Linked DNA regions of Homo sapiens. The protein of the gene in region 1 interacts with the protein of each later gene in a pairwise test. Each region holds a gene or a part of one and is shown in the gene's direction. Other genes may lie near its edges.

Evidence for each region. The genes of interacting proteins can lie anywhere in the genome.
Region 2: the proteins of FBXL18 (region 1) and WWP2 interact in a two-hybrid assay, tested with the Homo sapiens proteins (3 studies listed by BioGRID and IntAct).
Region 3: the proteins of FBXL18 (region 1) and RBPMS interact in a two-hybrid assay, tested with the Homo sapiens proteins (2 studies listed by BioGRID).

What each region holds. Positions count from the first base shown.
Region 1 is NC_000007.14:5,503,552-5,510,913, reverse strand, and holds part of FBXL18 (F-box/LRR-repeat protein 18), read left to right. Parts: intron 1-5,283; coding exon 5,284-5,502; intron 5,503-7,362. UniProt on the Homo sapiens protein: Substrate-recognition component of the SCF (SKP1-CUL1-F-box protein)-type E3 ubiquitin ligase complex.
Region 2 is NC_000016.10:69,926,036-69,933,397, forward strand, and holds part of WWP2 (NEDD4-like E3 ubiquitin-protein ligase WWP2), read left to right. Parts: intron 1-3,412; coding exon 3,413-3,494; intron 3,495-4,094; coding exon 4,095-4,223; intron 4,224-5,116; coding exon 5,117-5,192; intron 5,193-5,473; coding exon 5,474-5,545; intron 5,546-5,766; coding exon 5,767-5,855; intron 5,856-7,045; exon of another isoform or gene 7,046-7,145; intron 7,146-7,362. UniProt on the Homo sapiens protein: E3 ubiquitin-protein ligase which accepts ubiquitin from an E2 ubiquitin-conjugating enzyme in the form of a thioester and then directly transfers the ubiquitin to targeted substrates.
Region 3 is NC_000008.11:30,499,245-30,506,606, forward strand, and holds part of RBPMS (RNA-binding protein with multiple splicing), read left to right. Parts: intron 1-1,288; exon of another isoform or gene 1,289-1,466; intron 1,467-2,031; exon of another isoform or gene 2,032-2,274; coding exon of another isoform or gene 2,275-2,334; intron 2,335-4,935; exon of another isoform or gene 4,936-5,041; coding exon 5,042-5,192; intron 5,193-7,362.

The sequences.
Region 1 (7,362 bases):
GTGTGCCTGGTAAGCACATTCCAGGGCCTGCCACTCACACCAGAATTGGAATTTCAGGAGACCCCAGGAATGAGGTGCCTGGTTGGGACCTGTCTGGAAGCCTCAGCTGCCCTTTCCTGGTGGTGGAGGGAAGGGAGGTTCTGGGCTTAGGAGTCCAGGCCCTGTGGGAGGCATTACTTGGCCTTTGACCTCCAGCCAGTTACCTAGATTTTTTTTTTTTTTTTTTTGGAGACAGGATCTCACTCTGTTGCCCAGGCTGGAGTGCAGTGGCGCGATCATGGCTCACTGAAGCCACCACTTCCCGGGTTCAGGTGATCCTCCCACTTCTGCCTCTTGAATAGCTGGGACTGACTATAGGCACGTGCCACCATGCCTGGCTAATTTTTGTATTTTTAGTGGAAACGGGGTTTCACCGTGTTGGTCAGGCTGGTCTCGAACTCCTGACCTCGTGATCTGCCTGCTTTGGCCTCCCAAAGTGCTGGGATTACAGGCGTGAGCCACCGTGCCTGGCTCAACTAATTTTTTAATTTTTTTGTAGAGACGAGGTTTTGCCACATTGCCCAGGCTGCAACTTGGGTTTTTTTTTCTTTTCTTTTTTTTTTTTTTTTTTTGAGACAGAGTCTTACTCTTTCGCCCAGGCTGGAGTGCAGTGGTGCGATCTTGGCTCACTGCAACCTCCACCTCCTCGGTTCAAGCAATTCTCCTTGCCTCAGCCTCCTGAGTAGATGGCATTACAGGCGCCTGCCACCACGCCCAGCTAATTTTTGTATTTTTAGTCGAGATGGGGTTTCACCATGTTGGCCAGGCTAGTCTCGAACTCCTGACGTCAAGTGATCTGCCTGCCTCAGCCTCCCAAAGTGCTGGAATTACACGCATGAGCTACCGCGCCCTTCCTGCACCCTGGTTTTTGTTTCCTCTCCAGAGCTTGCCACCTTTTTTGGTGCAAGGTGCCTTAACTTAACAAAGTTGTCTCCGGAAGCTAAGTTCCAGGGAAATGACTCAACTCGCCCGCCCAGCAGCTGCCTCCTAGGGTCCTCTGGCCGGAGATGGAGAGTGGGGGTGGGGGCCCATTCGAGCTGCTTCCTGGGCCAGTTTCTCGTCTTGTCTGGGCATCACCCCTCAGATACCTGCCCCACCAGGTTGGGTGCTGGCCCCACAATTGCATCAGGGGTCTGGCCTGAGATGAAACTTCTCTTTTTTTTTTTTTTTTTTGAGATGGAATCTCACTCTGTCACCCAGGCTGGAGTGCAGTGGCACAATCTGAGCTCACTGCAAACTCCACCTCCCAGGTTCAAGCGATTCTTCTGCCTCAGCCCCCCGAGTTGCTGGATAGTTGCTGTGGACAGTAGCCCACCACCACGCCTGGCTAATTTTTGTGTTTTTAGTAGACATGGGGTTTCACCATATTGGCCAGGCTGGTCTCGAACTCCTGACCTCGTGATCCACCCGCTTTGGCCTCCCAAAGTGCTGGGGATTACGGGCGTGAGCCACCGCGCCTGTCCAAAATTTCTGTTTTATTTGGAGCACAGCATGTGGAAAAAATGATGTTGTGGAATTTGCTGTGGCTGGATGGAGAGAGCTGGAACTTAATTCCTGGCCTGCTGTCTCTCCCTCTCTTTTTAAAAAAAATTATTGTAATTTCTATGAGGTTTTAAGAAAAATTCAGTGTGGTCGTGTAACTGTGGAATCTATATGATGCTGGATTTTTTTTTTTTTTTTTTGAGACAGAGTCTCACTCTGTCACCCAGGCTGGAGTGCAGTGGTGCGATCTCGGCTCACTGCAACCTTCACCTCCCGGGTTCAAGCGATTCTTCTGCCTCAGCCTCCTGAGTAGCTGGGACTATAGGCGTGTGCCACCACACCCGGCTAAGTTTTGTATTTTTAGTGGAGATGGGGTTTCATCATGTTGCCGAGGCCTGTCTCAAACTCCTGACCTCAGGTGATCCACCCATCTCAGCCTCTGAATGTGCTGGTTTTACAGGCGTGAGCACAGCATTACAGCGTCTGGCCCAGTGCTGGAGTTTTTAATAGTGTTTTGCCCTAAGTTCTCATTCTTACCACGTGAGCTCTGTGATGGCATTCTTTCATAAATCTGCAAACTGGGAATTGGGAGGGGTACAGTTCATTCCTTGATAAGGACTGTCCCTGGTTCTGATAAAGATTGTCTCTGATTCTGATCAAGTTTGTCTCTGGTTCTGATAAAGGTTGTCCCTGATTTGGGAGTCTGTCTTTTGGGATTGGGCCCCACAAGTCTGGGGTGGGTTCCAGGAATCTGATTTTTATTTATTTATCTTTTTTTTTTTTTGAGACAAGGTCTCTCTCTGTCATCCAGGCTGGAGTGCAGTGGCAAGATCCTAGCTCACTGCAGCCTCAACCTCCTGAGCTGAAGCGATCCTCCCACCTCAGCCTCTTGAGTAGCTGGGACAACAGGCACATGCCACTGTGTCCCACTAATTTTTTTTTTTTTTTTTTTAGACAAAGTCTCGCTCTGTTGCCCAGGCTGGATGCAATGGTGCGATCTCGGCTTACCGCAACCTCTGCCTCCTGGGTTCAAGTAATTCTGCTCAGCCTCCTGAGTAGCTGGGATTACAGGTGCCCGCCACCAGGCCCAGATAATTTTTGTATTTTTTTCTTTCTTTTTTTTTTTTTGAGATGGAGTCTTGCTCTGTCACCAGGCTGGAGTGCAGTGGCGCGATCTCAGCTCACTGCAACCTCCACATCCCGGTTTCAAGTGATTCTTCTGCCTTGGCCTCCCGAGTAGCTGGGACTATAGGCATATGCCACCACGCCTGGCTAGTTTTTGTATTTTTAGTAGAGATGGGGTTTCACTATGTTGGCCAGGCTAGTCTCGAGAACTGACTTCGTGATCCGCCTGCCTTGGCCTCCCAAAGTGCTGGGATTACAGGCGTGAGCCACCACGTCTGGCCTAATTTTTGTATTTTTAGTAGAGACAGGGTTTCACCATGTTGGCCAGGCTGGTCTCGAGAACTGACCTCGTGATCTGCCCTCCTCAGCCTCCCAAAATGCTGGGATTACAGGTGTGAGCCACTGTGCCCAGCCTGTCTTGCTAATTTTCTTTTGAGACAGTGTCTTGCTCTGTTGCCCAGGCTGGAGTGCAGTGGTGTGATCTTGGCTCCCTGCAATCTCTGCCTCCGGGGTTCAAGCGATTCTCCTGCCTCAGCCTCCTGAGTAGCTGGGACTACAAGCGCCTGCCACCATGCCCCGGTAATTTTTGTATTTTTAGTAGAGACGGGGTTTCACCATGTTGGCCAGGCTGGTCTCGATCTCTTGACCTTGTGATTTCCCCGCCTCGGCCTCCCAAACTGCTGGGATTACAGGTGTGGGTCACCATGCCCGGCCTTGTTCTGCTAATTATTAAAATATTAGGAGGGAAGGTAGAAGTAAGTGTCTAACCTCTGACCCTCATGAGCCTCATGGGTCCTTACGGGCCATGTCCTTTGGTTTCCGTGTGGCTTTCTCTTTTGGAGGATGGAGGGTACTTCTTTGTTCCCAGGGAAGAAAGGTGGGACACATTCCAGCACACCTGTCTAGGGCCTGGCGAGGGCTTAGCAGGATGGGAATCCTGTCTGGAGAGGGTGAAAGGACTGTCGCAGTCAGAGTTCCCAGGAAACCTCCGATACCCGTGTGGGGTGTGCAGATAGGCTCTTCCTCCATGGCCTTCACGGTTGCCATGGTAGCAGCCTGGCTTTGCAAAACTCAGAGCTTCCATCCAGGCAAATATGTACAGGAAGCAGGAGCAGGCTGGAGCCAGAGGGTCGTGTAGACACAGTCCCCAGAAAGATGATGTAGTGGAGATGATTCCGGGCACTCTCTCCTCGGCGTGGTCTTTACAGAGATCAGCTGCTCTGAGAGGCTCCCCTTGGTAAAGCCTTCTGCCTTCCTTTGTCCCCGATCTGGGGACTTCATGTCTCATTAGGTCCAGCTCTTCTCCCTCTTCATCGTATAAACCAAAAAGGCATCAGGCATTTTGACTCAGGCCCACATTAGGGAAGAACACCTTGTAATTTGCCAGATATGAACTACAGCAATGGAAAAGGAAGTGTGCATGGCCAGGTGCAGGGCTCTTGCCTGAAAGGCTAGCGTTGTGGAGGGCAGATCACTCGAAGCCAGGAGTTCAAGACCAGCCTGACCAACAGGGCAAAACCCCGTCTTTACTAAAAACACAAAAATTAGCTGGGCACGGTGGCACATGCCTTTAATCCCAGGTACTCAGGAGGCTGAGGCACGAAAATCTCCTGAACCTGCGAGGTGGAGGTTGCAGTGAACCAAGATCGCACCATTGCACTCCAGCCTGGGCCACAGAGTGAGACTCTTTCTCCAAAAGAAAAAAAAAAAAAAAGCCGGGCATGGTGGCTCACACCTGCAATCCCAACACTTTGGGAGACTGAGGCGGATGAATCACTTGAGGTCAGGAATTTGCAACCTGATTGGCCAACATGGTGAAACCCCGTCTCTACTAAAAATACAAAAATTAGCCGGGCGTGGGCGTGGTGGCAGTCGCCTGTAATCCCACGTACTTGGGAGGCTGAGCCAGGAGAACTGCTTCAACCCGGGAGGCGGAGGTTGCAGTGAACCGAGATTGCGCCACTGCACTCCACCCTGGGTGACAAAGCAAGACCTTGTCTAAAAAAAAAAAGAAAAAAAAAAGAGGCCGGGCATGGTGGCTCACACCTGCCATCCCAGCCCTTTGGGAGGCTGGAGCCCAGGAGTTCAAGACCAGCCTGGGCAGCATAGCAAGACCCTGTCTCTATTATAACAAAACACCCTTTGGGAGGCCAAGGCAGGAGGATCACTTGCCCAGGAGTTTGAAATCAGCCTGAGCAACATAGGGAAACCCCGTCTCTACAAAAAACCAAAAAAATTAGCTGGACAAAGTGGCATGCGTCTGTAGTCCCAGCTGCTTGGGAGGCTGAGGCAGGAGAATCTCTTGAGCCTGGGAGGCGGAGGTTGCAGTGAGCCGAGATCACGCCATTGACTCCAGCCTGGACAACAATAGTGAAACTTCTGTCTCACAACAAAAGAAATAAACACATGATGATCTTTTTTTGTAATCTTTCATTTTTGAAGGGAGACCCTGGCTTACAGCTCTATAATGGAGTTTTGAAGGATTTCGTGAATTCTTTGTCATTCAGTTGAGAGTTTTAGTAAAAACACCTTCTTTCCCATGGATAAGGGCTTCTCTTTGCTTCTCTGCCTAGCTGCAGGCTAGGCTGACAGCCATCCTTGGGGATCCTGTGGGAATGGTGTCCCCCTTATTTTCAGGACATATCCAATGATGATGATGACATGCACCCTGCAGCAGCCGGGATGGCAGACGGGGTCCACCTCCTAGGGTTCTCTGATGAGATCCTCCTTCACATCCTGAGTCACGTCCCCAGCACAGATCTGATTCTGAACGTCCGGCGTACCTGTCGGAAGCTTGCAGCCCTGTGCCTTGACAAGAGCCTCATCCACACCGTGTTGCTGCAAAAGGACTATCAGGTGAGCAGGCGTGGGGGCAGGAGATGAGAAACAAGCTAGATCTCAGTCTTTGAGGACTGGGCACAGCCCTGCAGTGGAACCCTGTGTGCTGATATAAAGGTGGCAGGAACTCCAAGTCCTGACTGGCGCCGTCTGCAGGATGCATTGAGGGACAGAAGCAAGGGGCAGAAAAGCATGGGTGGTGTGCTGCCTGGGGAGGAGGGTGCAGATGTATGTGGACATGGTTCTGGGAGGGAACCTAGGGCCTTGGGAGTGGGGGAGAGGGGTTGGAGATGTGCTTTCTTGTGGATCGCTAGGAGTGGAATTGCTGGGTCTTGTTTGTTGTAAAGTTAAATATGTGGCTCTCCAGTGGTGCAGTGGGAGGGCACCATTTTGCACCCCCCAGCAGGGTGCAGGAGTTCCAATTGCTCTGCAGCCTTGTCAACACTTGGTACTGTCAGTTTTTTAAGTTTTAGCCATTCTTTTTTTTTTTTTTTTTTTTTTTTTTTTTTTTTTTGAGATGGAGTCTCGTTCTTTTGCCCAGGCTAGAGTGCAGTGGCATGATCTCGGCTCACTGCAAGCTCTGCCTCCCGGGTTCACACCATTCTCCTGCCTCAGCCTCCCGAGTACCTGGGACTACAGGCGCCCGCCACCACGCCGGGCTAATTTTTTTGTATTTTTAGTAGAGACGGGGTTTCACTGTGTTAGCCAGGATGGTCTCGATCTCCTGACCTCGTGATCTGCCCGCCTCGACATCCCAAAGTGCTGGGATTACAGGCGTGAACCACCACACCCGGCCTGGTAATGAATCTTAAAGATAAAAATAAGGCCAGGTGCGGTGGTTCACGCCTGTAATCCCAGCACTTTGGGAGGCTGAGGTGGGTGGATCACCTGAGGTCAGTAGTTCGAGACCAGCCTGGCCAACATGGTGAAACCCTGTCTCTACAAAAAATACAAAAAATTAGCTGGGCATGGTGGTGGGAGCCTGTAATCCCAGCTACTTAGGAGGCTGAGGCACGAGAATCCCCAGGCTGGAGTGCAGTGGCACGATCCCGGCTCACTGCAACTTCTGTCTCCCAGATTTAAATGATTCTCCTGGGTCAGCCTCCTAAGTAGCTGGGATTACAGGTGCCCACCACCATGCCCAGCTAATTTTTGTATTTTTAGCAGAGGCAGGGTTTCATCATGTTGGCCAGGCTGGTCTTGAACTCCTGACCTCAAGTGATCCACCCAACTCGGCCTCACAAAGTGCTGGGATTACAGGTGTGACCCATTGTGCCTGGCAAGCTTTAGCTCTTTCTGCTGGAGGGTCTTCAGTGGATGAGGGAGCTGAGTGTGCTCCCTGCAACGCTGGTATCAGGCCTCCAGGCCTCCTCTCCATGAAGCTTTGTTCTCTGCAGAGGAAGGGCTCGGCGCCTCTAGCCAGTGCCTCTCGGTGTACATCCAGAGCATTTTTTTTTTTTTTTGAAACGAGGTCTCACTCTGTTGCCCAGGCTAGAGTGCAGTGGTACTATCTCAGCTCACTGCAACCTCCACCTCCTGGGTTCAAGCGTTTTTCCTGCCCCAGCCTTCTGAGTAGCTGGGATTACAGGCGCCTGCCACCACATCTGGCTAATTTTTGTATTTCTAGTAGAGACGAGGTTTCACCATGTTGATCAGGCTGGTCTCAAACTCCTGACCTCGTGATCCGCCCATTTCAGCCTCCCAAAGTGCTGGGATTACAGGCATGAGCCACTGTGCCTGGCCTGGAGCATTTTTTTAATTTAATTTTTTGGCCGGGTCTGGTGGCTCATGCCTATAATGCCAGCATTTTGGGAGGCTGAGGCAGGTGGATCACATGAACTCAGGATTTCAAGACCCGCCTGGACAACTTGGTGAAAC
Region 2 (7,362 bases), on another chromosome or scaffold:
TGGAAACGCATCGCTGCTAGTTATTATCGCCGTGTAGATTTCTCCTCGCGCTTGGTAGCCGCCTCTTACCTATCCCAAGTCCTTGATGTGATTTGCTGACAGTGAGTTAAGGGATGGACATCCATGACTTAGGAGAGATGATAGGCTTCATGGCTATTCTAGGAAAGAGTAGCCATGCAAAAAGGGTCATTAGAGATGATGAGACTTAGCGCATTTGATAGAGCTGGGGCAGAGTTTTATTTAATCTTGTGAGAGTCACTGGGAGCAGAAGAAAGCAGTTTTTGCGGGAACCAGCATGTGTTGGGTTTCATTTATTGGTTAGGCCAGCAGAAGACGGTAAACGTTGGTTTGGTGGTGTTGACAGATGGTGTGAAACTGGGAGGGGGTGCGCTCGACAACAAAGATGGAGAGGTGCATCCTGGGAAGTTGGCAGTGATAGGATGGGCATCTGATGCCTGGAAACATGCAGGTTTGGAGCTGGATCTTCTCGATGCAGACACTTCTGCTCTCGGGTAGTTATTTAAGAGGTTGTGTCAACCCTGTTATACCTGCAGGGTACCACTTAGTCAATGAGCACTGCAGTCCAGTGTGCCAGAAGGGCCTTCTGGTCCTTCTGATTGGAGAGATCATTTAGTGAAGCTTCCACACATTTGTTGATGTTCAGCTTGGGGATCCCTTACGCAGATAGCTGCCCCACATGGCTCCCTGGACCAAAGAAAGATCATTAGTATCTCAGAGATTGGCAGCAACTCCAATGCGAGAGAGTAAAACTCTGAAGACCCTGCGTCGTCAGTAGGCAGGGGAAAATGCGTCAGATTAAACAAGAATCTGTACTGCTGTTTAGTAGCCAGTGGCATAGAAGCCGGGGACTTCTAGTGTATTTCAGGCTCTGTAGAGGCAGGTGATGTAGCCCAGTCAAGTGGGTTTTCATGCCAGTTCTGCTGAGTGATGGTCACCAGGTAAGCACAGCTGATGGAGACTTGAAAACAGCTCTCGAATGCTAAGTGTGGAAATATTTGAGATAGAAATGGAGGAGCCGTGGTCAGAGTCGATACTGTTAATGAACGATCAGAAAAAAACCCACAAAACTGTCATAGTCTAGAATTAAGAGGAAGAACATTCTGGCTAAAGGCCAGGGCTCCTTCTGAATCTCAGATCCTTGGGGATCTGTGTTGGCTGCCCCAGGGCTGTGGCTGGGGCCGGCTCCCCAGGGCTCACCGAGAATGAACAGGAAGAACAGCCAGACCAAGTGAGAGTGATCGGCAGCTTGCTAACCCAGCCTGCTGGTGTCCCTCTCTGCTGCCCCAGGAGAGACCCCGCATCTTCCCCACACACTGCTGTGGGACTCAGGACACCTCGGGTTCAGATCCACATCTGCCCTCGGCAGCCCTGACCCTGGGCCTGTGGCTGAATATGTCTGAGTCCCTTTGTCCTAAAATGAGGTCGAGCCAGGTGTTCCTGGGGTCTTTCCCAGCCCCCAACTGAAACTGAATGCCGCGAGGCAGCCAGCCGGCCTTGGGAGGCCTCCACACAGCAGCAGTGCCAGAAATGACGACACAGGCCTCAAGCCCGCTGGACAGATCCCCCTGGCCCTGTGGTTAGCCTTGGCTTTGGCCCTTAACAGGGCAGACGTGGAGGATCTAGTTCAAAGCAGTAGCTTCGGGGCTGGGAGCAGCCCCTCCCCTGGAAACCTCTTGGGAAGCCTTCCTTCTGTGTGTTCTGAGGTGGTGGTAGCTCTGTAACAGCTCTGGGCACCTCCTGTTCTTTCTTTCCTTTGGCTTTCTTTTATTTATTTTTTATTTACAAAATAGAGATGAAGTCTCGCTGTGTTGCCCAGGCTGGTCTCGAACTCCTGGGCTCGAGCGATCCTCCTGCCTCAGCCTCCCAAAGTGCTGGGATTACAGGCGTGATCCACCGTGCCCAGCCTGTCTTTATTTTTATTTTATTTATTTGTTTTTCCAGCTTTACTGAGGTATGATTGACAAATAATGTCTGTTTGTAAAATTTCAGTCGAGTCATAGATACCAGGTAAGGCAGAGAGTGGGAGGGAGACTGAGGCCTTGGTCTGGTGTTGGGAGCACTGCAGCTCGAGTCTTGGAGTCAGGAGGGGGTTGTTGCACTTCCCTGTTCTGCTCCTTTTTCAGCTTTCTGGTTCCCTGTAGCTTCTGGAACTGATTATTTTTGTTTCTTTAATGCTGCCCTGTCTTGTAAAAGGAGAGCCATTAGCATCATTTGTTTTCAGGAGAGAAGCAGATTTGAAGGCTCAGGAACTTCCTGGGAAAGGTGACCTCTTTTGAGCCAAGAGCTTTACCCCCTAGTTTTTTGTTTTTTTTTTCTCCTGTCTACCTGGAGCTGAGAGGTTATCCCTTTCAATCCCTCTCAAGGTCCAGAATCACCAGCTAGGGTTGGGTCTGCCCCTGGAGCACAGACTCCTCCCTTGGGGACCCCAGAGCCCTTATCAGTATATCAGTAAAGGGCAAGAGAACAGAGATTGTTCAGAGCAGAGGAAAAGTGTATTTGTTCCCCAGCCCCACTCCATGAACATTCCCCTGTCTCAAAGCACATACTTAGGCCTAAGAACAGGATAGGCAGGCCAGGCACGGTGGCTTATTGCCTGTAATCCCAGTACTTTGGGAGGCTGAGGCGGGAGGATCACTTGAGGCCAGGAGTTCGAGACCAGCCAGGACAACATAGCGAGACCCTGTCTTTATATAAAAAAGAAAAAAAAGATACAAGTCTAAGAAGAGGCTGGGCAGTGTAAGTGTCCTCAGCCCCAGATATCATTTATTTGCTTATAAGCAAGAAAGAGGCGTGCCAGGGTATGAGAGTTTTAGAACAAGACTTAGCCTGTAAGTGGGAGAAGAGGGAGAACTTGGAGGGTACAGGGGCGCAGGGTGCAGAGCACTGATCAGAGAGGTGCGAGGGAAATGCAGCCACTCCATAAGGACCACGCCCTGTAGGACAGAGGCGCCCAGGTTAGCTGCATGCAGTGCAGAGGGTCCCAGGACCAGGGATCAGCTGTGAGGGACTTGGGTGGGGGGCCTGGCGGGTTAGGGACTGCCCGGCTTCCATGCTGCACACAGCTGGGAGCAATTATGCCTCTGGTTTGAGCTGTGCTGCTCCCTCTGGGTGGCCACACCACCCCCTCCCTCCGACCAATCAACCAAAGAAGTGCTTCATCTCGAGTTGGAAGTATGTCACCCCCGCCCCCCACCACCAACAAGGAAGGACCCTCTTTGTCCCTTTCCCAGTGACAAGTGTGAGTGAGCTTGGCTTTGGCTGGTTCTTCTCTAACAGGCTGACAACAGGGAGATAAACTCAGACCCAGCACCCAGGAGGTGGGAACCTCAGGGAAAGGACACCGGCTCTCCGTGTTTGAATCTGATGTTCTTTCTTTCTTCTCATGTGGCAGAGAAGAGACAGGACAATGGACGGGTGTATTACGTGAACCATAACACTCGCACGACCCAGTGGGAGGATCCCCGGACCCAGGGGTAAGGACTTGGGCTGAGAGGGGGGCCGGGCTGGGCTGGGTCTCTGTGCAGCTCCAGCACTGGGCAGGTGGCTTTGGACTGCATCGTCCCAGAGGGCTGATGTCAGGGACCTTTAGCCACACACAAGTGTCTTGAGACTCTCACCGTACAGATACACTGTTGGCCTGATGAGAGCTTAAAAGGGGTTTCTTAAATAGACCTTCCTGGTGGATGGAGGGCGGCCCGGCTGGCGGGTGTTGCTGGTCTCCATACTGATTGTGCTGGCTGCTGATAATTGGATTGCAAAAAGGTTGAGGGCATCCTGGTCTCCCAACACCCCCAAGTGAAGCTGTGCTGGGGCACAGGGTGCCTCAGGATTGCTGGTGGCTGCTCAGTCCAATGCCATCCATGCAGGGCTGGGTTTTTGGCCATGAGATAATAAGTGACCTCTCCGTGCTGCAGAACTGTTCTCACGACTTGGGTCATGCTTCTTGGGTGCATGTCCTCAAAGTCCCTCATGGGCTCTGCAGAGACAAAGCCACACTTTGAGGACCCAGCCTCCAACCACCAAGGTCCAGAAGGTGGGGCCAGCCCTTCACCCTTTTCTTCCCGTGTTTCCAGGATGATCCAGGAACCAGCTCTGCCCCCAGGATGGGAGATGAAATACACCAGCGAGGGGGTGCGATACTTTGTGGACCACAATACCCGCACCACCACCTTTAAGGATCCTCGCCCGGGGTTTGAGTCGGGGTAAGGACTTTGTGCAGGTAGCAGCAGTGTCAGGAGCCGAGGCCCAGGCTGTCCTTGTTCTGGCTCTGGGAGGCCCACTTTGGGTGGCCCCTGTGGTGCGTTCTACTGCCCTTACTGCCCTCTAGTGGCCAATGTTGATGTCATATTAAAGGGGATGGGAGGATAGCTTGAGCCCAGGAGTTTGAGACCAGCCTGGACAACATAGCGAGACCGTGTCTCCACAACAATAAAAAAGATTAACCAGGCTGAGAAAAATGGCAAGACCCCATCTCTACAAAAAAAAATTAAAAATTAGCTGGATGTGGTGGTGCATGCCTGTAGTCCCAGCTACATAGGAGGCTGAGGTGGGAGGATCCCTTGAGCTCAGGAGTTTGAGGCTGCAGTGAGCTATGATGGCACCACTGCACTCCAGCTCAGGTGACAGAGTGAGTCCCTGTTTCTAAAAAATAATAATACATTTAAAATTAGCTCGGTGTGGTAGCACACTCCTGTAGTCCTAGCTACTTGGAAAGCTAAAGCGGGAGGATCGCTTAAGACCAGGAATTCGAGGCCGCAGTGAGCCATGATCACACCACTGCACTGCAGCCTGGGTGACAGAGCAAGACCCCGTCTCTAGAAAACGAACAAACAAATAAATAAGATGGGATGGGGAGGAAGGGACTATCCTGTTTATTCCGAATGACACTAGAGTTATTTCTCTAAAAGCAAGAAGTCTGGCTTTATTTCTAGATTTTCTTTTTTATTCTTCAAGGATCTTAATGACAGTCACTTCCTCACCTTACATTACTAATCTTTAAATTAACATAGCACCAGCTTTCCTTAGGGCTGACAAAGACAAATTGTTCATTTTCTGAGAAATCGCATGAACCCCTGAACATCTTTGCTCTTCCTAGGACGAAGCAAGGTTCCCCTGGTGCTTATGACCGCAGTTTTCGGTGGAAGTATCACCAGTTCCGTTTCCTCTGCCATGTGAGTTCTGGTACTGGGGCTCCCGTGGCAGTTGGGGTTATTGAGTTATTTCAGTGTGAGTTCCCGGCACAGCAGCAGGTATCGGAATGTTTGTGTCTTAGGCGGGCGCAAGACACTTGTCTAACCCGGAGCTGGCTGTCTCTAGGAAGCTAGTTTTCATTCCTAGGGCACATGCTATTGCCTCCTGGCCCAGCAGGCTGGGGAATGCCTGTTCATACAGACAGGAGAACAGATGACCACTTGAGGCTCGATTTAAAGTTCTTTTCTTTTTTTTTTTTCAGTCAAATGCCCTACCTAGCCACGTGAAGATCAGCGTTTCCAGGCAGACGCTTTTCGAAGATTCCTTCCAACAGGTTAGATCATGGTGCCCGAAACCAGTGGCAGGCCGACGCCCTCCTCCCAGCACCCCATCTCCTATCGCGTGGCCTGTTAAACCCACACTGCAGACTTTCCAGGGCGTGAGTCTTGGTGACTGTGTCTGCTGGATATTGGGCCTTAGAGTCCCCTGTCCCTCCCGCCCCTGCCTGCTGTGGAAGGGAGAGTGGCAGGCTGGCCCGATGCTCTGTCTTCCCAGATCATGAACATGAAACCCTATGACCTGCGCCGCCGGCTCTACATCATCATGCGTGGCGAGGAGGGCCTGGACTATGGGGGCATCGCCAGGTGAGCTTGAGTGCCCCGGAAGGCTGCCCTGTACCCCGCTTCCCCAGGCTACAGCATCAATGGCCAGAAAGCTGCCTGCCCCCTGCTCACATTCCCTCCCAAAGCTCTCATGCATCTTCAGGAATGGGCACAGTGTGGCATTCAAAATACGTGAACCCGCCAGGCGCGGTGGCTCACGCCTATAATCCCAGCACTTTGGGAGGCTGAGGCAGGTGGATCACCTGAGGTCGGGGGTTCGAGACCAGCCTGACCAACATGGAGAAACCCCGTCTCTATTAAAAATACACAATTAGCTGGGCGTGGTGGTGCATGCCTGTAATCCCAGCTCCTGGGGAGGCTGAGGCGGGAGAATCGCTTGAACCTGGGAGGCAGGAGGTTGCAGTGAGCCGAGATCGTGCCATTGCACTCCATCCTGGGCAACAAGAGCGAAACTCCATCTCAAAAACAAAACAAACAAAAAAACAAAATACGTGAATCCATGTGGCCAGTCCATTGGGCCTGGAACAGGGGCCTGGGGTGCCCCACTGGGCTGGACATTAAGCCTTTAGTTACTGGGTCATGAGGCGACGGAGGACTCCTGGGAGGGGCGAGAGCTCAGTACAATGGCTCTGTTATCTACCAATGTGTCATGTTTCTGTACTTTAACAACCAGGCCAGCAGCATCTGGGCAGTTGAATATAGGGGCCATGTGGTCATCCATTAGAGTTGACCCTGGGATCCCCTCCTCTTAAGGCAGCCAGGGCAGGTGAAGTCAGGTGTCCCCGTGTGGATAAGCTGTGTCACGATCCACAGGGCCTTGAGCAGGGCTCAACTGCATGTCACATGCCTGGGGTCAGTAAAACTGTAACGGCTTATGTCACCCTAAAAAGAGTCCAAAGCATTGTCTTGCCTTCACCCTGGTCCACCCATAAAAGTTAACAGGCCCTCTGGGAAATGCTGCCTTGGACAGCAGGGCAGAAGGGCCCCGGCAGAGAGAGAGAGCGCTGTGGCCCGCAGCGACCTCTCCGCTCGAGACCTCTCCCGGTGTGGGCATGTCTTCCCGCTTGGTGTTGGGTTAACTTGCTTCTGGTCCTCTGTTCGGTGGTGGCGTTGCCTTCTGCGCTGGCCCCGTGGATGGATGTTCCTTTTTTCCGTGGTGACCTCCTCTCCAGGCTCTGCTTGGTGGGCTTCTGGTGTGGCCGCGCCCTGTGTGTGTCTCTCTCTGTGTCCTGCCAGTGGTTTTACCCTATGGTAGGTTACGTCATGCTGTTCTACCACAGGGTAGAACCACGGACAGGATACCGGGGCACCCTCTGCGTCGACGGACTCCTCGTCTGCCCAGCCACAAACAGCCCAGCAGCTGGGGACTGGCCCCCTTGGGACATCCCCTTGCTGGTTTAGCTCAAGCCCAAAAGGACTCTGAATTCATGCCTGAGGCTCGCACCCAGGGCACGGGTGTTGGTTCAGATGAATGCGTGGAAGTGTGGGAACGGGGATGGTGTTGGGGTCTGGGGGTGAAGGGAGGGCA
Region 3 (7,362 bases), on another chromosome or scaffold:
GAGTGACAGAGCAAGACTCCGTCTGGTGGCAGCAGGGAGGAGCAATGAGATTACTAAAGCACCATTTGGCAACTACAATAGTAACAGTTGCTTCAGGTAATAATTATTAATAGGTGTTAAAACTAGTAGATTTTTTTGAAAAACAACATATTTATATAGTCTGGAAATATCTGTCTATAAGAAACTACTTAAAAAGGGAAAACAGCATCTTTACAATAGAGAAACTTGGCAAATGATCAAAGCTAATATCACTCGTAATGGGACAAAAGTGACATCATGTGCCTCTTGATATTATGCACTGTGCAGGACATCCATCTCTGATCTTCCTGCCAAAAAATGCGTAACCTGAATCTAAACCAAAAAAAAAAAATTAGATAAACCCAAATCGAGGGCTACTCTACAAAATAAATAGCTTGTAGTTTTCAAAAATATCAAGCTCATGAAAGGTAAGGACTGAAGAACTCTTTCAGGAGACTAAAGTGATGACAACTAAGTGCTGTGTGATTCTGGATTAGATCTTGGATCAGGAAAACAAAGAGATGTCCTTGTTTTTAGGAAATCAAACTGAAGTAAAGGGTAAAAGAATAGCATGCTTGCTACTTACTTTTAATCAGTTCAGGGGAAACTGTGTGTGTGTGTGTGTGTGTGTGTGTGTGTGTGTGTTTGATAAATGTGAAATGCTAACATCTAAGAAATCTGTGCAAAGGGTATATAGGAATTATACTATGTCTGCAATTTTTCTGTAAGTCTGAAATTATTTCAGAATAAAGTTCTTTGTTAAAAGTAACTAGTTTTTAAAAACATAGCTGGTTGAATGCTGTGTCCCAGTAGGAAATCCCTTATTCCACCTCTCTCCTTTTGTTTTTAATTCTGTATTGGATTTTATAAATTATACATAGTTGTAAAAATTTCAAATGATGCAAAATTGTACAAAAGTCTGTGCCCTCTCTCACCCCTACCACTAAGTTGTCTGCTATTATTAACTGGTTGGTTGTCTCATTCTAAACCTTTCTGGACTTACACAGATAGAGAAGTATACATGCAGATGTATATACAGTCTCCTCTACCCCCATACTACCAAACATTGTTGAGTATCTTTTTTTTTTTTTTTTCAGGCTAATCTAGCCATGGACATCTTTCTCAATATGTATATATAGCTCTGCTTTGTTTCTAAGCATTTTTTTTCTAAATGAGTCATTCCATTGTCCCTAAAACTCATTGTCAAGGACTGATGGACTAACTTTAGCGCAGAACCATTTGTAACAACACTGGGAGCCTGAAGCTAACAGAATTGAAGTACTCTGTTTATTGTACCACATAACCAAGACTGTATCAGGTATGAGGGTGCTCTGAAGACCTCAGTGACAGGAATTTGGAGACTTTTTCTCTAGTGAGAGGCTGTTACGGTGACTCAGCTTTGGTCAACACCATTTTCTGTGTCTCTATATAGGCTCAAGGTTGAAATCCTTATAAGAGAAAACAGGTTTTGTCACTTTAGGCTGCAGCTGCCCCTTAAATAGGCAGCTGTGGTCAGAGGAATAAGGGCACAGAACACAGACATTGGCCCCTGAGTACCCTTCCCAAAGAAGAAGGCTTAGAGGGCAGTAGCCATCTCATCCCAGCTTCTCTTCCCAGGGCTGCTCTAATGGTTTCATATCTGATCTGTTCTAGTCCCTTCATTGAGTCTGTCTTCCCTACCACCCCTAGAGTTACCGCCAATCACTGTGATTCTCAAATGTGGTCCCTACACAAACAGCATCAGCATTACCCTGAACTTGTTAAAAATGCAAATTTTCAGATTCCATCTCAGAGCTACTGAACCAGAAACTCTAGCAAATCCTCCAAGTTGATGCTGCTAACATTTGAGGGTCACAGACCTACTACATAAAGCTGATCATATTATCCCCCCCATTTTTAAAACCTAATGGCTTAGCTGAGCACACACTCCAAAGTCCTCAGTCATGGCATAAGAGGTCCTTTGTGATCTCTCCCCAGTCTGCTTGTTCAGCCACCCCACCCCTGACCCCTCCCACCCCAACACCCTTTCTGCATCCTGTTACAGAGAAATTTGCTGAGCCCTTTCCTGAACTGCACCTGGTGAACTTCTACTCTTCATCACTTCCTCTGGTGCCTTCCCTGGCTCCCTGGCATGAAACTGCCCTGGTATACTTTTAAGTATACTGGACGAACAAGAATATGTTGTTTCTCAGCAGTGTCCTTTTAAAGATCTCCCAGAATTTGCCCTGAGTAGGGAATTCAGCCTCTGTAGATTATATGGAACCTGCATTTGTAGAGACTGTTGGCTGTCCAGTAGCCAGTCAGATTGGGGTGCTTGTAAGTAACTGTTTATATTCAAATTAATATACTAATATTCAGAAACTGTCCTTTCTGGTCCATGTAATAAATAGGACACCATTTACATTTGGAAGAGAAAGGTTCTCTGTTCATTGTGAGAAGAACGGTGAATTATGAGCAAGAGAGGAAAAGGTTGCTTTTGAAAGACACAGGTTCACCCTTTCACTTGGCAGTAATCTTATCCTGACAGCATTTAATGTGGAGTAATTGTAGCCAGAGAAGAATCTTAGTAGGCTTTAATTAAAAACACAAGGAATTTTTTTCTCTTGTCTTCTTCCTATCTGCCTCTTTTTCTTTTTTCCCTCTTCGTTTCTGTGTTCTCCCTTTTCCTGCCCCTCTTTTTTCTCCTCTTCATCATCCCTTAACATTTAAAATGTTTTTGGCTTGGCTAATCCCTATGGATGGAAACTTAGCTGCGCAGGATATTGATTACCAAATATGGTATTGCTGCTAAAGATGTTAGAGGAATGTGGCTTGTATTCTAAGCCTCCGGCCTCTGAATAAGCTGCCAAACAAATTAGGTCATTTTAACTTCTGAGCTTTTTTTTTTTTTTTTTAAATAAGGATGCTGGAACTTTGATTTGGAACATGATGTTGATGTTATTTTAGTTCAAATTGGGGGGCGGGTATGAAGAAGGGGGCAGGGAGTAGGGGAGACTTAGTTCAGCATGTTTTAGGACTCAAGCCGCCAGCCCAGGTTGTGTAAGAGGCAAACACATGATGTGGAGCTTCAGTTGATTCTGGAACACCAGTGAAAGAGCTGAGGCATAGAATTCACATGTGCAGCCTCATTTTCTGAGGCTAGATGCTCTAGACCACAACTAGGTCCCAGGATACTCTTCACATCATCCCCAGTGGCCTGGGCCACAGGACTCAGGTTAATGTGAACTCAGGTTTAGGAAAGTTGCTTCTTCACAGGAAGGTTGGTCAAGTTTAGTGCCGGGGAGGACGTCCTGAAGTTGATGGCAAGTTGCTACTATGTGTGTCTGATGGAGTGTGGTGCAAATGAGGAAGTCCTTTTACAGCATACCTGTACGTAACACCCAGGGACTGTGCTTGCCTCCCAGCAGAGACCACAGTTCTTAGGTCCATTCTTGGAAATATTAATTCTGTTGTAATATTAGCTTTGTTAGGGTGGAAGTTGGTCCACCTCAGTGAGGTCCTTTGTGACCTCACCCCAGCCTGCTTCAGAATGCAGCTTTGCTTTTTGTTTTTGTTTTTCCTTATATACTTTTTCTTCAAAATAATACTGAGGTTTCCCAAATTTAAAAAACAAAAATACAACACAATATCAGTTAAAGAAAATGTTCTTATGTTTCACAGAACAGGCACTATCTGTTCGCTTTTTGGTGTTGATTAGGTATGCACAAGGGTATTCTCCACATCCCTTTTGCTACTGCCCTCAGTTGGTTTCTTCTCAGAATGAGTGAGTCATGCTCATGAAGTTCCACCCACTCCAAGACTTCTGGGTCAGGGCTCTGTGGCTTTTGTTAGGCCTCCCTAAGGACCTCTCTTTCCTTCCCCTTCCCCCCTTGTTTCCTGTTAATGCCATTACCATCCAGCCACAGGCTCTTCCTTGTATACTTGAAGCTGAGCCTGTGAAGTTCAGAGTTGTTCATCCTGGTCTCTAGAGTAAGAGAGTCTTGTTTTTGTGGATATTTCTTTTTTTGAGACAGAGTCTAGCTCTGTCACCCAGGCTGGAGTGCAATGGCGCGATCTTGGCTCACTGTACCCTCTGCCTCATGGGCTCAAGCAATTCTGTCTCAGCATTCCAAGTAACTAACTGGGATTACAGGTGCATGCCGCCACGCCCAGCTAATTTTTTTTTTTTTGTATTTTAGTAGAGATGGGGTTTCACCATGTTGCCCAGGCTGGTGTTGAACTCCCGAGCTCAGGCAATCCACTCGCCTCGGCCTCCCAAAGTGCTAGGATGACAGGCATGAGCCACAACGCCCTGCCTGCTCTTATTTTTTTTCAAGCTCATTAGGAAGAATGGTGGCGAGGGGGCGGGGGATGCTTTGGAGCCCTCAGGCCCATGTGTGTACATTCAGAACACTAAATGGCAACTGTGTTCTTAGGAGACTCGTTTTCAGGACTCCAGTCCCTTTCCAGACCACACCATGAAAACATGGGAACTGAGTGGGTCCCATGGGTGCACATTTAAAATACACTCTCTTGGGATATCTTTTTGACACGTAGGGTCCAGAATTCATGGTATTGGATGCTTAATAATGAAGACATTCTTGAATGGTGGAAAGGTTCCAAATAGACTTGTCTTGCGCTAGTGTCTTTCATAGTGTCTGTGATTTGTTTTACTGAATATAATCTATTTTAGGTAAACTGCAGGAATAGGGTCAGAGGTAACTGAAATTACTATATATTAAAGTGTGTAACTGTGCTAGGAATTTGCTGGTTCAAATTTTAAACTGAAAAGTTTTTGTCTAAAAAGAAAAGGAATAGTTGAAAATCTGTGTAACTACATTTTTTAACTAAACTAAATCCCACTGACTTTCGGGACACTTTGTGTTGTCATTTTTCATGTAACCTGTGTAAGTAGTAAGAATGAGAGTGGTTGCTGACCTTTTTTCCTGATAGACCAGGGTTTACTGGTGTGTTTATTTTGTCACCATTCCGGTTTGACTCAAAGGAAATGAAAACATCTTCCATTTGTTCTCTGTTTCCAAAGGGCATCCGCTTCGATCCTGAAATTCCGCAAACACTACGACTAGAGTTTGCTAAGGCAAACACGAAGATGGCCAAGAACAAACTCGTAGGGACTCCAAACCCCAGTACTCCTCTGCCCAACACTGTACCTCAGTTCATTGCCAGAGAGCCATGTAAGTCGATCTACTTTTCATTCAAAAGTAATAATAACTAAGAACTGTTCATGTGCTGCATGTGAGGTTACACCATGGGACATGGAGCTGGCTGAGTCTTATTTTCCATTTCTGTGAAGAGGTTGCCTAGGCGTTCTTGGTGTCAGAATTCCAAATACAGCAATCTTGTTTGTGATTGGCTTCCCAAAAGATGGTTCAGCTTGAATAGAACCATAACTTCAGAATATCATTTGATGTACTACAGATTTCCTTAATGTTATATTGACCATCATGAGTATGCCCCTAGTTGCCTTGGGTATAAACCCTTCATTCCCCCCTGCTCGGACACGAGAGCTGGTTCTCAGCATTTACTTTAATCCATTTGTTGAAGGACATCAGCTCGGTGGCTTTGGAAAAATAGGATATTAAAAGAGAAAGAAGCAGATCTTGGGAATTTGGTTCTATTCAGTTTAGCCATAACTCTAGGGGGAAAAGTAAACACATACAAAGAATGTATATATTGGAACTGTCAGTCTAGCAAACTAATACCAGTAAAACTTTAAGGAAATTTGGGGCTTTCTTTTCCAACTTAATTGGATAAGGACACTGGCTAATTGCTCAAGACGTCTTCTACCCCACATTAATAAGCTTATTTCATTATATGTCCAGACTACCATTTCTGCCTTTCCCTGAATAACTTTAAAAGATTGAATTTGCTTTCTCAAGCTCAGTCAGTGGCAGAAGTGGGGCATGAGACAGGCCTTAACTTCTCCTTTCATTGCAGAGCCATATGTGATTTAATATGGCAGGGCATTCAAGGAAACCCAAGTGACTTGGATTCCAAGTTATTTGGAATATTTCTGTCCTGTTGTTTTTGGTCTGCTTTCTAAACCACACGGTTGTGATCTTCTTCCTTCGATAGTACATTTTAACTCTTCTTATTGAAATTGAAGGACACATGGATTCCTTGCTCCCCCCATGTCATGTGCATGTCAGATTTAATCAGGTTATCTTTGGAAGTCACAGCCATTCTGTAGTTCAGTCACTCTTGGTACTCATCAGTAGAAACTAACAGATAAGTCTCCCTGAATGTTCTAAAATAAATGTTTCTATGAATCCAGAAAGTCATAATAGATTAAAAAAAATTATTTTGTTCTTTCACCTTCTTTGTCCCAGGGAAACTAGAAACCTTTGCTTATTTGGGAAGGAAATCTAAACAAAAGTTACATCTTACAGTGTACTTGTAGTACAGGAGGATATAGGAACATCTTTTACATAATTCTTCATCCTTATAGTATCTAGCTTAATACTTTGTATATTGTATATATTTAATATTTATTATAGTGAGTGGATAAATTGATACTGAAATTGGGCTACTTGTAGAACTGTAGATGCATTTGTATGCCTCTTCTCTCTGAAATTTCTTCTCTCTTGATCAAGGCATCAAAAAAGAGTATTTTTAGGATGCCTGATTTAGTAAAAATAACCTAAAGTAATTCTTTGCCTTTTTAGTGAATTTGCCAGCCTCAGATCTCAGAGTTCTTTGAAAAGATTAATTCAGGCAGGAAATGTAATGCTGGTGATACTTAACTTTACCTTTTCAATTCTTTGCTGAATGCTCTTTTTAACAGGACCACGAAACTTTTTCTGAATTTCCTACAACAGCCCTGTGAAATAGGTAGCCAGGAAGGTTGTAGCCAGATTACGACATGCTATACAAAAGCAACAAATAGGAACAAACTGGACATTCACAAGTCCCTGAAGTTACAGGAGAGCATAGAAACTGAGCTTAGAACTCTTTTCTGGCAAGCTCTGCTCACCTCCCTTCCCAGCATACAGAACAGTGCAAAAATGGCCAGATAGTTTCCATGACAGGGTAAAAACTTGCCCAGCTGTTCACAGCAACACAAATTTGAAGTTTAAAAAAAAAAAAAAAAAAAAAATCCAAGCAGCCAGCAGTGTATTCTTGAGGAAAATAAAAGTCAGCATGATTTATCTTAATATAGCTCATTTTTACGACACAGCATCTTGAGGAGAGCAAGTCCACTATGGCTCAGGTCAACCTTATTATCCATTGCCATTCCCTCTGGGAACTGGGAACTTGACCGTCACATACAACTTGCTTACCTGGAAGCATACGGCAAGACTAAGAACACTGTGTTGGGTCTACACGGACAAACCCACTTGCATT